2 separate regions of the Homo sapiens genome follow, and region 1 is linked to region 2. The links come from fine-mapping of genetic effects on gene expression. Tissue or cell type: whole blood. Region 2 holds a variant in brackets; the other region holds the start of a gene. All regions are shown on one strand. Distances are between the middles of the regions.

Region 1 (2,752 bases), 33 kb before region 2:
CTCCCCACAGGCCTCTGCGTGTGACGTGAGGCAGGACCGGGCAGTAGAGGGCAGAAAAGCAGGACAGCGGCTCTGGTCTGCTCTCTCCCACCGGGCTAGGCAGCGGGACAAGACCAGGCTGAGAGGGTGAAGGCCCAGAGGAGGAGCTGGGAGACGATGCGCAAACAAGGGAAGCCCAGAGCTGAGCAACAGGTGCCAAGGAACTTCCACATCAGAGCCTCCAGTCAGTCCCAGGTTCCAGGGCTGCCCAGGTCCTCACGCCGGTCACCCACACACTTGCCACCCTTTCTGTCTACAGCGTTCCCAGTCTAGGGAATGACGTAGGGAAAAAGGCTGCCAGAGAGAACCGAGTGTCGACCAGGGCAGGAACCCCACAGGCACCTGGTGGTGGAGGGGGACCTGGGGAGGCTTTGATTTGAAGAAGAGCAAAGTTGGGGAGGGTCCTGGAGAAGAGAGAGGGGGCAGCCCCGGCAGGTCGGTGCTGCAGCTTGAGAAGCCCACTGTGGTGCTGTGTGTGGGTGGGGAGGTTAAGAGCAGAAGGGAAGCAGGGAAACCACAGGCTTCTGGAGCCCAAGGAGTAGATGCCAGACCAGACCCGGGCCTGGCCACTGGCACATATGGGACTTACGGACGACGCTTAGGTTTTCGCCCTGAATAACTGGGTACAGGGCAGGGGAAGGGGTGCTGGATCGCTGGGGGACCCGCAAGCCTCGAACTCAGGGAGAAAGTGACTCGGAGGAAGCCTTCTGGCGGCCTGGAGGAGCTCGGGAGAGCAGCAGACCCAGCCTTAGTCAGGAGGGGCCTTTACTGACTATGGAGGCCCGGGAGGGGCTCTGGGCAGAGAAGGGACCGGCCCCAGGCTGGTGCTTTGGTGCTACTCTGGTGCACAAGAGGGATGCGGTGCGGGGGGAAGGTGGAGCGGCGCAGCAGGTGCGGGGAAGCGGTAGGGGCCCAGGTGTCCGCCGCAGGCGGCCTAGATGGAGTTGGCCCCAGGACGGAGGCCGGAAGGGACCAAAGAACAACAGGAGGGTCCGCGTGCTGGGAGCCAACAAAGAGCCAAGGTGGGCGACCGAGAGACAGGAGAGGGTCGAGGAGAGCAAAGCACCTCGGGGCGCCCGCTCCGCCGTCGGTCTTGGCCCAGCTCTAGCCGCCCCTGGCCACCATCCAGGGGGCCCAGCCCGGCGGTCGGTCTAGGGCCGGGTCCCATGACAGGGCGCGGTACAGGTTCTGGCGGCGGCCCCAGGAGGAGCCGTGGGGGACGCTTCCCGGGGAAAGCGGCGGCCGGGGCGGGAGGGCGAGGGCCGAGGGCGGGGCGGGGCGGGACGGCCTCGCGCCCCCAGGACCCCAGCCTCCCCGCGCCGTGTAGCCGCTCTCCTACCTGCCCGCCCGCCCGTTGCCGGGCTCTGAGCCCGCGCCGCCGCCGCCAGGAAGGAGGGGTCCGCGTCTGCTCCACGCCGGGGGCCAAGCCTAGCTGCTACCGCCGTCGCGCTTCTAGCCCTTGATGGCCGCCGGCGCGCCGGAGTTTCAAACGCCGACGGTTGCCTTCGCGCGGCCAATCAGCGCGCGGCCGGGGGCAGGACCGCAGGAGGGCGGGCGTCCAATGGGAAGCTGTGCCTCGCCGGCTCCGCCCTCCCTCCCCCCCCACCCCCCGCTCGGGCGCCGACGGTTCCGTTTCCGGAGTGGAGGGCACGCCAGGGTGTCTGAAGCTGAGACCCCGGGCTCGCAGTCGCCCCATGAATTTCGAGTTCCGCAACTGACGCTACTGGGCGGGGCTTCATGGCCAGGGCCTCGCTCAGGCCTAAGTTTCCCCACCTGTGCTCAATGCACAGGTGCGGTGCCGCCTCCAGGGCCGGCCGAGAAGAGAGGCCGCACCCGCACGGGGACTGCATCTCCCAGAGCGCCCCGCGAGCGGCCGAGCGGCGGGACTCCATGCCCTAGAGTGCCCCGCGGGCGGCCGGGCGGCGGGACTCCATGTCCTAGAGTGCCCCGCGGGCGGCCGGGCGGCGGGACTCCATGTCCTAGAGTGCCCCGCGGGCGGCCGGGCGGCGGGACTCCATGTCCTAGAGTGCCCCGCGGGCGGCCGGGCGGCGGCCGCCGCAACCGACAGGTCCGGGACTGGGCGCTGCGGCCTCGTCCGCGCGCCGGGGCGGGGGCCTAGCTCGACAGCTTCCCGGCGGCTGCGCGATGGACAGCCCCGAGGTGACCTTCACTCTCGCCTATCTGGTGTTCGCCGTGTGCTTCGTGTTCACGCCCAACGAGTTCCACGCGGCGGGGCTCACGGTGCAGAACCTGCTGTCGGGCTGGCTGGGCAGCGAGGACGCCGCCTTCGTGCCCTTCCACTTGCGCCGCACGGCCGCCACGCTGTTGTGCCACTCGCTGCTGCCGCTCGGTGAGGCTGCTCGGGCCGGCCGGCCGCATCCTCTCCTGCGCAGGGCTTGCTGGGAGGTCAGGAGGAGGCCTCCGCCAGCTCCCCGAGGCCCCGAAAGCGCCTGGGCGCAGCTGGGGAGAGGCGCCGGTCCTCATCCAGAGGGACCGCGGCGTGGGCTGAGCGCGCTTAGGGGCGCCGCCGGCACTGACTTGCAGGTGACGGGAACCCAAGTTCAGAACCTTGGGCAAGGGATGCTCCGGCCCACCAAGTCCTGAACCGTCACGTGCCTGGGGGTTGCAAGGCCAAGCAGCCCTTGCTTGTCGTGGTTGGGGGCAGTGGCCAGGAGAAGGCAACTGTTGATTGAGTCCAACGGAAGGGGTCGGA
Region 2 (2,752 bases):
CCTGAACAACAAGAGTAAAACTCCATCTCAAAAAAAAAAAAAAAAACAATTTTTGCCAGGTGCAGTGGCTTACATTGTAATCCCAGCACTTTGGGAGGCCAAGACAGGTGGATCACCTGAGGTCAGGAGTTCAAGACCAGCCTGGCCAAGATGATGAAACCCTGTCTCTACTAAAAATACAAAAAATTAGCTGAGCATGGTGGTGTGCGCCTGTAGTCCCAGCTACTCAGGAAGCGGAGGCAGGAGAATCGCTTGAACCTGGGAGGCGGAGGTTGCAGTGTGCCGAGATTGCACCAGTACACTCAAGTCTGCGTGACAAAGCGAGACTCCGTCTCAAAAAAAAAAAAAAAATTGTCAGTTCTTCTAAATGGATGTATGTAGTTACAATGGAATTCCTATCAAAATCTCAGCAATATTTTTTGTAGATGATGGTTCTAAAATTTATGCGAATGTAAAGGAACTAGAATAGTTGAAAGTTTTGAAAAAGAACAAGGTGAATAGAATGAGCTTATCTTTTTCAAGGGTTATATGACATCAGGACTGTGGTGTCGGTGGAGGGATAGACAGATCAGTGGAGCAGGACACAGAACCCAGAAATAGACCCACAAAAGTCTGGCAAACTGACTTTTGCAAAGGTGCAAAAGAAATTCAGTGGAGAGGCCGGGCGTGGTGGCTCACGCCTGTAATCCCAGCACTTTTGGAGGCCAACACAGGCAGATCACGGGGTCAGGAGATCGAGACCATCATGGCTAACACAGTGAAACCCCGTCTCTACTAAAAATACAACAAATTAGCTGGGCATGGTGGCGGGTGCCTGTAGTCCCAGCTACTCAGGAGGCTGAGGCAGGAGAATGGCGTGAACCCGGGAGGTGGAGCTTGCAGTGAGCTGAGATCGCGCCACCGCACTCCAGCCTGGGTGATGAGTGAGACTCTGTCTCAAAAAAAAAAAAAAAAAAAAAAAAAAATTCAGTGGAGAAGGATGGTATTTTCAACAAATGTGCTAGATTGGCTGGAGCAAAATCCAAGAGCAAAAATGCAAGCCTCAACCTAAGTCTCACATCTTATAGAAAAATTAACTCAAAATGGATCACAGGCTTAAATGTAAAGTGTAAAATATAAAACTTGCAGAAAATTGTTGGCATCTAGGGCTAGGCAGAGTTTATAGACTGGACAGCAGAATCACAATCCATAACAGGAAAAATGGACAAATTGGGCTTCATCAAAATTAAAAACTTGTGGCTAGGCATGGTGGCTCATGCCTGTAATCCCAGCACTTTGGGAGGCTGAGGTAGGAGGATGGCTTGAG[G/A]CCATGAGTTTGAGATCAGCCCTGGCAACATGGCAAGATCCCATCTCTACAAAAAAATTTTTAAAAATTAGCTGGACCAGGTGCGGTGGCTCACGCCTGTAATCCCAGCACTTTGGGAGGCCAAGGTGGGCAGATCACCTGAGGTTGGGAGTTTGAGACCAGTTTGACCAACATGAAGAAACCCCGTCTCTACTGAAAATACAAAATTAGCTAGGCATGGTGGCGCATGCTTGTAATCCCAGCTACTGGGAAGGCTGAGGCAGGAGAATTGCTTGAACCCGGGAGTTGGAGGTTGCAGTGAGCCAAGATCGTGCCATTGCACTCCAGCCGGGACAAGAAGACCGAAACTCCGTCTAAAAAAATAAAAATAAAATTAGCCTGGTTGGGCACAGTGGCTCATGCCTGTAATCCTAGGACTTTGGGAGGCTGAGGCGGGCGGATCACCTGAGGTCAGGAGTTTGAGACCAGCCTGACCAACATGGAGAAACCCCGTCTGTATGCAAAATTAGCCGGGTGTGGTGGTGCATGCCTGTAATCCTAGCTACTCAAGAGGATGAGGCAGGAGAATCGCTTGAACCTGGGAGGTGGAGGTTGTGGTGAGCCGAGATCGCGCCATTCTACTCCAGCCTGGGCAACAAGAGTGAAAGTCCGTCTCAAAAATAAATAAATAAATAAATAAAAATTAGCTGGGCATGGTGGCACAGACCTGTAGTCCCAGCTACTCCGGAGGCTGAGGTGGGAGGATCCCTTAAGCTCAGGAGTTTGAGGCTGCAGTGAACTACGATCACACCAGTGCATCCCATCCTGGGTGACAGAGTGAGACCCTGTCTCAAAAAATAAATAAATAAAAACTTTGGTTCTGCCAAATACCGTTAAAAGAATGAAAAGGTCCGGACGCGGTGGCTCACACCTGTAATCCCAGCACTTTGGGAGGCCAAGGCGGGCGGATCACGAGGTCAGGAGATCGAGACCATCCTGGCTAACACGGTGAAACCCCGTCTCTACTAAAAAAATACAAAAATTAGCCAGGTGTGGTGGCGAGCGCCTGTCGTCCCAGCTACTCCAGAGGCTGAGGCAGGAGAATGGCGTGAACCCGGGAGGCGGAGCTTGCAGTGAGCTGAGATCGCACCACTGTACTCCAGCCTGGGCGACAGAGCGAGACTCTGTATCAAAAAAAAAAAAAAAAAAAAAAAGACAAATCCACAATTACATTCGGAGATTTCAACACTGCTCCCTCAGTAATTGATAGAACAAGTAGATTAAAAAAACTATAAGGAAATAGGTGTGAGCCACCTTGCCTTTAATTTTTTTAAATTGTGAAAGATACATGAGGTATACAGAAGAGTATAGAAAATAACATAAAGCCTCTGCACACATAACCACTTTTGTGAAATCTTTGCCAAGATGGCTTCCAGATCCTTTTTGTTAATTCCTGATCCTTTTGTT

Evidence for each region. PIP is the estimated chance that this variant, and not a neighbour inherited with it, causes the effect.
Region 1: it holds the start of TMEM129, and the variant in region 2 is fine-mapped to the expression of TMEM129 in whole blood (TOPMed, PIP 0.99).

Annotation. Positions count from the first base shown.
Region 1 is chr4:1,720,270-1,723,021 of GRCh38, reverse strand. It overlaps TMEM129 (transmembrane protein 129, E3 ubiquitin ligase), which reads left to right and starts at 1,699. Exons shown (of 4, transcript NM_001127266.2): 1 at 1,699-2,389. The coding sequence starts at 2,185. It overlaps TACC3 (transforming acidic coiled-coil containing protein 3), which reads right to left and starts at 1,501. Exons shown (of 16, transcript NM_006342.3): 1 at 1,379-1,501. RefSeq lists enhancers at 671-1,666, 2,749-2,752 and silencers at 1,289-2,098, 2,109-2,158.
Region 2 is chr4:1,687,553-1,690,304 of GRCh38, reverse strand. No RefSeq gene overlaps it. Among named protein-coding and RNA genes, the nearest start is that of FAM53A, 4.6 kb to the right of the region's middle. The variant G/A (reference allele first, on the strand shown) is at 1,307.